Regions from separate parts of the Homo sapiens genome. Here region 2 is linked to region 1. The links come from fine-mapping of genetic effects on gene expression. Tissue or cell type: whole blood. Region 1 holds a variant in brackets; the other region holds the start of a gene. All regions are shown on one strand. Distances are from middle to middle.

Region 1 (5,372 bases):
TAAGGATGGCAAGAAAAGCCTCTCTTGGTGGGTAAAATCCATTTTGTCCTCTCTTGTGACATCTGTTCTAACTTTTAAAGCAGAAAGGAAGCTAGATAATGCCAGAGAGTCCTTTGATTTACAGTACTTGCCCTTCGGACGCCACCCTGCTCTCTGAAAGCACCTAACCTTTCTTTTCTGGATGTACGCAGGCACCGACGTGAGAATCTGCACATTCCCTTCACACTGGAGAACTTCAGAAGTAATTCTGAACTTGTCTTTCAAACTTTTAATTGTCTTTTTCATGATTTCTTAATTACATTTTCAATTACTTCTAAACCTCACAACACTGAGTCTTTGAAACTCCAATTTTTAACAGCACAAAATTTTAATGTTTATTGCTACATATGTTATTGTGTTTCATCTCTAATTCCCCTCAAAGCTAATTTTGCTTTAGTAGAATGAGAAATTGCAGCAAATTTAGTTAGGCAACTGAAATATGTACACAAATACAGAGGAACCCCCGCAAGTGATAGAATAAAAAGGAGAAGAAGAGAAGCCCAGCGGAGTCCCGGTCCCCTCCTACCATCTGTGCTGCAAGCTCTGGGGTCCCTTACATTGGTCATCCTGAAACAAAGCTGAAGGCAGATTCCAGCCGGTTTTCCATTCACTATTCATTCAGAGGTCCACCCGCTCCATATGCATTCAGCCAACTGCTGTGTTAAATCAGGGCCTTCTCCCAGAATTGACATGGTAATGAAATCATGGTGTTGCTCAGTGAAAAGACCGCCATAGGTATGCCCCTCTCTTGACAAATCCACCCTTTCACCCCATTGAGGCCTGAAAATTATCTCATAACATCACAACATCTGTGCACAGAGGCCTGCCTTTTGGAGCTGGGCATGTTTATTGCTCGGTTGAGTCTCCTGCACTGGCTCTCTCAGGATAGGGCAGGCTGCCACTCAGCTTGGTCCAGCCACTCCTGGGCATTAGCCTAGCAGCCCCAGGCTTCCCTCCTGCTTTTCCCACAGCCTGCGTGCTCCCAAAGCCTCGGGGCCCAGAAATGCTGACGTCTGGATGCCGCATGCCAGGAATTTTAGTGGGATCATTTTCAGGTGTTAAAGGTGGACTACAGAGCTCAACTAGTTCATGTATACTTGCTGTCAGAAAACCTTATAATTAGTCCGGCAAAGAAAACCAGACAAAAAGTGTGAGGTTTCTGGGGTGGGAGGAGCTGAAAGTGAGGAGAAGTTAGCTAATGAATTTTGGTCAGACTCTAGCAAATGACATTTGCTTAACTAATAAGTGTATATGAACTTTATTTAACTGGCCTAGGTCAATAAAATGCTTCTACAGGGAGCAGCGAGGTTGGGGGAACATATAGTTTGCACAATCTGCAAGCTATATGTGTTCTGCCCCGATACAATGATTCCATTTCATTTGATTTGACATTTAAGAGCCCTTTTTAGAAGGAAAATGAATATTTCTGTATTTTATTTGCTATAACCTCACTTGACTCTGCACATAGCTGAGAATAAATGTCACATTCATTGCACTGCAAACAGTTGTGTGCTATCCTGGAGAGGGGTCACATGGTGTTGGGGGGGTGTTATTAGCCCCCCCGATAAGTGCTCACAGGGTGTGTCTGTGGCCCATATGGGCTCTGGGTGCCCGGACTTGTTTTGCTTTCTTCCCCTGTGTCCACATCTGAGCAAGGATTTGGATAAAATGTTCCTGATTACATATGAGATGCATTTTTGCCTGATAACAGGGATACACAGAGCGTCTCTTTCATTCAGGTGTCCAGGAGGCCCTGCTTCCACTGCAGGGAACAGAGAGACAGGCCAGCTTGACCTGGGCTTTTCCAGCGTCCATTCCCATACCACCTGGCCTTGACCACCTTGCTAAAGCTTGAAGGTCAAAACTGAGCCATTTTGATCACTTCCTGGTCACAGGACTAGGAAATGCCTCGCTGGTGGATATTTTCCTTTCAGTTGTCTTTAAAAGGAGTACTCTGCCTGTTGGGGTCACTCCCAGAAATAACGTCTTGCCAGCTCTCTGGGTGTCCTTTAGCCCAGTCAAGTTGACTCATGAACTTAACCATCACATGCTCAGCTAGGCTTCTAAAGCAGCGCTTCACAGACATGCCTACACATCCAATACTGATGGGGTCCCACCCCAGTCTGGGGTGCAGCCTGGACCAAGAGTCAGGGTTCTGGGGTGCAGATCTGGTCACTGTACTGTCCGTTCCCAAAGCCCTTCAGAGACTTCCTGCTGTACCACCACCCATGTGCCAACCCCTTCATCAGGGCCCCCACCACTCTGGGCTCATCTCCCATCACATCTCATCCCTCCCCACTGCCCGTCGCCTCTAGGGTCCTTAGGAAAAGGACCCTGTCCTGGGCCCTGAGCTTTTGAGGGCTTAGCTTCAGCCCACATCTGGCTGAGCCCTTCCCAACCTGGCTACGGACTGAATCAGTTATGGATTGAATTGTTTTCCCCCAAAATCCATATGCTGAAGTCCTGACCCCCAGAATCTCACAGTATGACCTTATTTGGGGATCAGGTTTTCACAAAGATAATCAAGTTAAAGTGAGGTCATTAGGGTGGGCCCTACCTAATATGACTGGTGGCCTTACAGAAAAAGGAAAGTAGGACACAGACACATAAAAGGAAGACAATGTGAAGAGACACAGGGAGAAGATGGCCACCTCCAAGCCAAGGACAGAGGTGCTCTGAAAAGCCAATCCTGCCAGACCTGCAGCCTCCAGAACTATGAGGCAAGGGCTTCCTGTTGCTCAAGCCTGGCGGTTTGTGGTGCTTTGTAAAGTGGGTAGTCCTAGCAAAGCCAGGCAGGATCTGCAGGGTCGGCCCACAGGAAGCCCGTGCCCCAACTTCTACACCATGCCCTAGGCACCTCGGAGCCCAGAAATCTCTGCCCAAAGGGCCTGGCCCCATTGCCAAGGCCTGGGCAGGTTCCTTCCTGGAAGCGTCCTCCCAGGGCGGGCCGCACTCCAAGGCTGCACTCCAAGAACCAGCTCTTGGAGGAGGGTGGGGCAGGAGCTTGGGTTTGAGAGCTGAGAACCCGCAGGCCGCTTGCAGGACCTTAGCCATGGCAGAAAAACCAGCCCCAGAGGCGGGCAGGGGACGATGGGACACACCAGGGACCTCACTGGCCCGGTGCCCTGGGCCCCGTGA[A/C]CACCAGGGGGCCCCCTCCGCCCCACGCTCCCTGGTGGCCGCGTCATTCCTCCTCAAGCCGAGTGAGGAGGGCAGGGAAAGTCACCCCGGCTGCTGCCCCCATCTCGTCCCACGAGAAGGAGCAGAAGGAGCAGCTGTAGGTCTAGAATCGCATCCTGACTCCTCAAGTTTCCCATCGCGCTCCTTCTTCAGCTTCACTGCTCAGCCCCGACCTGGCTTTCTGCCCCATCGCTGTGCCCTCTGACCCCCAGCCCCTCCGACAAGCACCGAGGCTCCGCCCTCTGTCCGAGGCCCTGTGAGCACGGCGCGGGAAGTCAGCAGGGTGGGGCGGCTGCCCCTCGGTGCCAGGGCATGGGAGCCTCAGGTGGGGCTACTACAAAGTGCGACTGGGGCGGAGGCGCCGAGAAGCCACGCGGGCTCCTGTTCCCGGACCGCACCGCTGGGGCGAGGCTACCGAGTCACCACGACCCCCAGGCCAGCCCAGGCCACGGGTGACTCCTGGGGGCTGCCCGCGGCCCGCCCGCCCGCCTGGGGAGGAACCCAGAGGAGCCCCGTGGGCCATGTGCCTGTTCCCAAACTGCGATCCATGCCAGGCTCCGCACCCCCGGGCACGGCGACGTCCTGGCCTCAGCCTGGAGCCGACAGCAGGGCCACGGCCATGGCCTCCGAGAGGGCAGCTGCCGAGACGGTGGCCGGGGCTCTGACATGCGCCCTGCTCTGCCCTTGGCCCCTTCCCCGGGATCTGTCCGTGTGCCCGGAGCGCCTACGAGGCCCCAGTGGAGTCACGGCCCCGGAAAGCGCTGCCCCTGCGCCTCAGCCCCAGTAAAGGCTGTTGGTTCCTCCCGGCGCAGCCCTTCAAAAGCGCCCACGTTCCTCCCTGTTCAGGCCACATACTAATTTTAAAAGAAAAAAACACAACCCCCCAACTGTCAAAATAAGGTATTTATATTTTAGTGAGTCATGTTAATATGTGCTCCAAAATGGTAGGGGCCTCCTCAAATCCTGCTGTCGGAGTGTGTGTTCTCAATCATAATTAAGGTTACTGTTAGGTTCTTGGAGACTACAGAGGCAACCAGTTCTTTATCCATTGTGTTTTTGACTGTGACTAGCCTAGGACATTTTGACGTTCAGACAAGTGTTGTCTAGTTTTGACACTCTTCAAAGGACCGTCTTCAGCCCTCAGTGTAGGTTTCTGATAACTGAAGATTTTGAACAGGAGTTGACCTGGTGAACTGAACCAGTGGAAGACTGAAGTCATCTTCTTTTGACTTTTTGGGACATGGTTGATCCTTTGTTTTGTCTTCCAGAATCGAGGAAGCTTTTCTTTTAAGCTGTTTGTAGCTTTTGGCCATTGTGGGGGTGAACCAACCAGTGGTCTGTGACTACAGTTCAGAAGAAACAGTTGGGCCATCAAACTCCAAATGGCCATGCAAATGGCGGACGATGGCTCTCTACACTGGGGACCCTAGATAGGCCTCTAAGTTAAGAGCAGTCATCGTCCCTATCCTAACGGCCATTAGATGTACCTCTTCAGAGCAGGGATTGATGGCAGCAACAAGCATGTGGTGTGGCACTACCATCACACCAGCTGCTGCAGGGAGGGTGCAGGTAGGAGGTGGACAGGGCCCCCCACAGCCCACTGCCCTGGGGGTGGCTGCAAGGGGCCGAGCCCAATCCCGTTCAGGAGGGGGAGCAGTGCAGCAGGGGAGCAGCATGGCTGGGCAGAAAGGGGCCCCAGTGCAGAGCTGGGGCTGCACTTTGGGGATCCAGGACAGGAAGTGGAAGTGGCAACCACTTTTGGGACCTGGCCAGTGGCACAGCCACTGTGCCCACACCGCCTAGGGTGCCAGGTTCCTGCACTTCAGAAGAAGGCTCTACACAGGCCATCCAGGGCCGGGTCCCTGGGGTCTGCCCTGAGTCAAGATGGCTGCCAAGCTTGCCACTTCTGATGGCCGAGCCCAGGGCCCGAGATCCACTCCATCCCAGGCCATCCTGGAGCACAAGGGCAATGGGGAGAGCTCATGGAGATGTCGCCCCTGCCCCGGACACTGGCTTGGGGCCCAGCAAGGATCAGGAGCCCCCAGCCCATGCTGCAAGGGGGCACAGCTGGGGCTGCATGCTCCATGGAGCCAGCAGGAGCCAGGAGCAGGCAGCAGCCCCGTCCTCACAGGCATGGCTGCAGCTGCCCAAGCCAG
Region 2 (5,372 bases), 37 kb after region 1:
GCCTGGCCAGCGCGGAGCTCCCGGCCCGGAGCTGCTTCTGATTACCGCGAGGGGCCCGGACGCGAGAGCCGCCGCGGGGCCTGCCCTAGAGGCGGAGTGAGTGAGTCCTGGAGCCAGGCTGGGGGACCTTACGGGCCGGTCTGTCGCTGCCACGGGGTGGGGGCGTCCCGGTGGGGAGTCGAGGGGAACCGCACCAACACCCACCAGCGGAAGCCCTGCACACCTTCCCACCGCCCGCGGATCTAGCCCTCCCTCTAGCTGGGGCCGTTTGAACTTTGGAGGCCTCAAATGCAAACCCACCCAAGCCACCAATTGACAGATTTTGACTTGCCTTTAAACCCACTTGGAAAATGCTCCGACACGATTTTCCCCCACGAAAGCAATTTTTAAGGTGATTTCATATTGGGCGTGCTGAAACAGACACACTAGTAACTTAGGCCTCGTTTAAATCATTAACTTATACAGCTTCGTAATCCCCTTTAAATGATCTTTAAATGAATGTAAAACTGGGTAGCGTGCCAATAGAATCGAATTCAACACAGCCAGGCAGACTGGACTCTGACATGGCAGCTAAAGAAAGAAACACCAGAAAACTTTCACCATATTTAGCCATTTTACTACATCAGGGTACAAAAATGATCATGGGAGAAGGCACTGCCTTAATCAACTTTGCAAAGTGTAAAGTGAAACCGCACAATGCTCATTACCGCCCAACCCAGAGCCTGGCTGTGGGGATAATGAGGCTGGCACGGATGTTAACATACGGTGTCCTTGGAAAAAGCTAGGAATGCGTCAGTATCGAAGAGCTGCAATGTCCAAGAATCATAAGTAATAATTTGAGAATCCCAAAGATGTTTGTTTACATTGGCTATTATTGTAAAATAGTCAAAGTATAACATCATGAACCAAAATAGTGTCAAAACAAAATCTGTTCCACTGTGGCACGTATGTGACAGAAACACATGCACACAAAGTACATCAAAAGGCTCGAACTGTGGGAGGACTCGGATAGTAAATCACTTCCAGACTTAATATCAGAAGAGATACGGTGCATCCAACGCTGTCAGGGACAGAGTCGCAGGCAGCATTGCCTGGCCTGGGGAAGGCCCTCCGCAAACTTCTGGCTGGACAGGAAACAGTTTACCTCCTTCCTCCAAACTGAGGGGGCTGAATTTCAGGAAGGTGAGCTCCACCTCAGTGCCACCCACTCTGCCTCCCTGGAGAGGCGTCATGGGGCGCATAGCTGTCACGTGACGGTCAGAGACTGCTGGCCCCACCAGCTGAGAAATTAATCATTAATTGAAGGAAAAAACACTGTTTCCCCATTATCGAGCTTTTCTTTCAGCTTCTAGGCCTGCCCCTTCCGCTTTCTGAAATGCAAAGGAGGTAGAGATTGAGGCAGAAAGTAAATAAGATTTGAATATTGCCTTTCCTGGAGTTTTCTAGTTCATTGTTTTCTGGAGCAAATATTTTCAAAAACAAGAAACTGACACACTGTGGTCAAAACAGAATTCTAGATAAGCTACAATTATGTGAAAATTAAGGTATTTAAGTAAATAGCTGCAAACTTTTTAAAACTTAGACTGAAAGAACGAGTTCTTAAAAGATTTTCAGCCAAAAAAAAAAAAAAAAACCTTGAACCCGTATTCAGTACTAGTGCTGAAAAGATTCCAAACCTCATATGACAGAATATTTTTTTTTCCTTAGTGTGAAGATGTCTATCAATGGCTAGGGCCACCTATCTGTCACAAAGCTTTGGAACTCCTCTAGGTGTTGGAATGTGACACCAGAAATCACAATTAGTGCATAATTAATCACATTACTTTGCCACCTACACGGAAGGGCACAGACCGGCAGCCTTTCAAGGGCAGTGTATGTAAATGTAGTTTCAATATGCAAATTCTCCTAATTATTTCCGATTAATACGATCATTATAATAGCCCTGCCTCCTTCTTGAAAAGGAACCCTGAAAGCGCCCTGCCTGTGAGAGCTCCTTAGCGACCGGTGAGGTTGGGCATGGTTTGCAATAAGTACTCATTTTCTTGAGTTTACAGTAATGCCTCCCGCGCTGCTCCGGGTTGCAAAAGCCCACACTAAGCCTGTCGTCGAATGCGTGCGTGGGTGGTTTGTTTGTGTTAACATAACTTTTCCTTATCTGAAGAGACGAACTCACTCTACAAACGTGACTCTTCAGTGACAACCTAATTTGCGTTTTCACTTTCTTCTGAAATGCTTTCTATCTTTCCTCACGCTCTCCCTCCGATGGGTTGCAGTGAACTGTGGCTTCCCCCCTGCGGTGCTGAACTCGCCCGTGTAGCTGTGATTTTAGAGCTGCCGACAGCTCTAAGGTGTGTAGGGCTTGGTCTGGGAACACCCCCAGGGCAAGGGTCCCGCCGCGCGCTTGGAATTAGAATTAAGAATGCATATTTAGGCGCCCAGGGTCTGCCCCCTTCTCCCTCCTCCTTCCCCTCCCCCTTCCCCTCCCCCTTCCCCTCCCCCATCTTCCCTTCTCTTCCTCCTCCCTCCTCCTCTCCCTCCTCCCGCCTCCCTCCTCCCCGCCCCCCGCCCGCCGCTCCCCGCCCCCCGCCCCCCGCCAGCCCCGCACTTACTGTACTGTACTCTATTTACCACCCCAGCTGGGCTCGCGCCCCGCCCACCCCGCGGGGATTGGCTGCGAACGCGGAAGAACCAAGCCCACGCCCCGCGCCCGCGCCCACCAATGGAAGCGCCCGCTCGTCTTGATAGACGTGCCACCTTCCGCCAATGGGGACGAAGGGAAGCTCCAGCGTGTGGCCCCGGCGAGTGCGGATAAAAGCCGCCCCGCCGGGCTCGGGCTTCATTCTGAGCCGAGCCCGGTGCCAAGCGCAGCTAGCTCAGCAGGCGGCAGCGGCGGCCTGAGCTTCAGGGCAGCCAGCTCCCTCCCGGTCTCGCCTTCCCTCGCGGTCAGCATGAAAGCCTTCAGTCCCGTGAGGTCCGTTAGGAAAAACAGCCTGTCGGACCACAGCCTGGGCATCTCCCGGAGCAAAACCCCTGTGGACGACCCGATGAGCCTGCTATACAACATGAACGACTGCTACTCCAAGCTCAAGGAGCTGGTGCCCAGCATCCCCCAGAACAAGAAGGTGAGCAAGATGGAAATCCTGCAGCACGTCATCGACTACATCTTGGACCTGCAGATCGCCCTGGACTCGCATCCCACTATTGTCAGCCTGCATCACCAGAGACCCGGGCAGAACCAGGCGTCCAGGACGCCGCTGACCACCCTCAACACGGATATCAGCATCCTGTCCTTGCAGGTAAGACCTGCTCCGGGGTCCCCGCCCCGCCGCCGCACACTCCCGCGGTCGTCTGGGCTGTCACTAGGAGATCCGTAGCCCAGACGGTGACTTTCGTATGAGCTATTTAACTTTATTTTCTTCAGAATCTGCTGTAGATTGAGCTGTGCGTGAAATTGCTAGTAAGTTCTGACATGTTAATGCGTCTGTCTTTAAATCTGAATTGTTACCATAAACGTGTTTAATGGAACTTGCTGGTCTGTGGACTACAAAAAAAAAAAAAAAAAAAAAAAAACCCTTTCTACTTAACATTGTCTTAACCTCGTACTCTTTATCCTCTTTCTTTCCAGGCTTCTGAATTCCCTTCTGAGTTAATGTCAAATGACAGCAAAGCACTGTGTGGCTGAATAAGCGGTGAGTGTTTGCTTGTGCCACCCGTGGGTAAACTGCCCCTCGGTGTGTGTGCGCGCGCGCGCATGTGTTTTTGCTTGTGTATCTATAAAATGTCTGATTTGGTAAATGCATGCTTACTTCGCGGTGTTACCCGTACTACATTGTCTCACTAGACATGAAGGAGCTTGTAGCTTTGGGTGCTCGAGATCACAGAACATTTTCCTTTAAAAGGAAATGATGCCAATAACTTACTACGAAGGCGGCCGAGGAACGTGTGTATTGGCTTTGTAGCAAATGTAATGCCCTGGATCTTCCTACGAGTCCTCTGGTACTATGAGGTACTAACCTCCACTGTAATTAATCTTACCGCCACAAATTCCATAGTGATCCTCCTTCCCTAAAACTATAGTCCTCTGGGATTCTCTGGGCTAGTTGAGGATTGCTACCCTGTGCCTTCAACCCTGTGATGTGGGATCCCAGACTTCCCTATCTGTTAACTAAAGGGCTGTTTTCAATCAAATAATTGTTACGAGAAGCAGACTGGCGCCTGTAGCACTGCTGTTGGAGATCCAAATAGGAGATTGGGTTGGGAAGTTTTTCCCTTGAGTCTCTGCTATTTTAATGTTTAATTTGCGCTGTCGAGGCGAGTGTGTGTGTTGCATCTGGACGCCAGGGTTTGCCCAATCTTTGAGTGTTTGGTTAAATGTTCAAACTGTGGCTTCCTCCCGGCGCCAGTCGCCCGCCTCTGCCCTTAGGTTACATTCTCTTAAACATGCCTTTCTCCCCCACTCTTTCGCAGGTGTTCATGATTTCTTTTATTCTTTGCACAACAACAACAACAACAAATTCACGGAATCTTTTAAGTGCTGAACTTATTTTTCAACCATTTCACAAGGAGGACAAGTTGAATGGACCTTTTTAAAAAGAAAAAAAAAATGGAAGGAAAACTAAGAATGATCATCTTCCCAGGGTGTTCTCTTACTTGGACTGTGATATTCGTTATTTATGAAAAAGACTTTTAAATGCCCTTTCTGCAGTTGGAAGGTTTTCTTTATATACTATTCCCACCATGGGGAGCGAAAACGTTAAAATCACAAGGAATTGCCCAATCTAAGCAGACTTTGCCTTTTTTCAAAGGTGGAGCGTGAATACCAGAAGGATCCAGTATTCAGTCACTTAAATGAAGTCTTTTGGTCAGAAATTACCTTTTTGACACAAGCCTACTGAATGCTGTGTATATATTTATATATAAATATATCTATTTGAGTGAAACCTTGTGAACTCTTTAATTAGAGTTTTCTTGTATAGTGGCAGAGATGTCTATTTCTGCATTCAAAAGTGTAATGATGTACTTATTCATGCTAAACTTTTTATAAAAGTTTAGTTGTAAACTTAACCCTTTTATACAAAATAAATCAAGTGTGTTTATTGAATGGTGATTGCCTGCTTTATTTCAGAGGACCAGTGCTTTGATTTTTATTATGCTATGTTATAACTGAACCCAAATAAATACAAGTTCAAATTTATGTAGACTGTATAAGATTATAATAAAACATGTCTGAAGTCAATACCTGAATTCCGAGTGGTTTTTAAGATCTCTGGCATTCACTAGCTCTTTTCTCTCCCTGTCTCCCCCTCTCGGCCCCCCCCCCCACACACACACACACACATTGTTTTCTTTATCCCCTTCTCCTTCATCCCCCC

What was found.
Region 2: it holds the start of ID2, and the variant in region 1 is fine-mapped to the expression of ID2 in whole blood (TOPMed, PIP above 0.99).

The regions. Positions count from the first base shown.
Region 1 is chr2:8,641,896-8,647,267 of GRCh38, forward strand. The region is part of intron 1 of LOC105373411 (a long non-coding RNA gene); the gene reads right to left. Among named protein-coding and RNA genes, the nearest start is that of ID2-AS1, 37 kb to the right of the region's middle. RefSeq lists an enhancer at 1-1,566. The variant A/C (reference allele first, on the strand shown) is at 3,178.
Region 2 is chr2:8,679,218-8,684,589 of GRCh38, forward strand. ID2 (inhibitor of DNA binding 2) reads left to right here and starts at 2,839. Exons shown (of 3, transcript NM_002166.5): 1 at 2,839-3,296; 2 at 3,626-3,689; 3 at 4,468-5,244. The coding sequence starts at 2,949. The coding sequence ends at 3,682. ID2-AS1 (ID2 antisense RNA 1) reads right to left here and starts at 2,646. Exons shown (of 4, transcript NR_110154.1): 1 at 2,610-2,646. RefSeq lists a silencer at 1-54 and enhancers at 1-143, 2,038-2,541, 3,029-3,078, 5,361-5,372.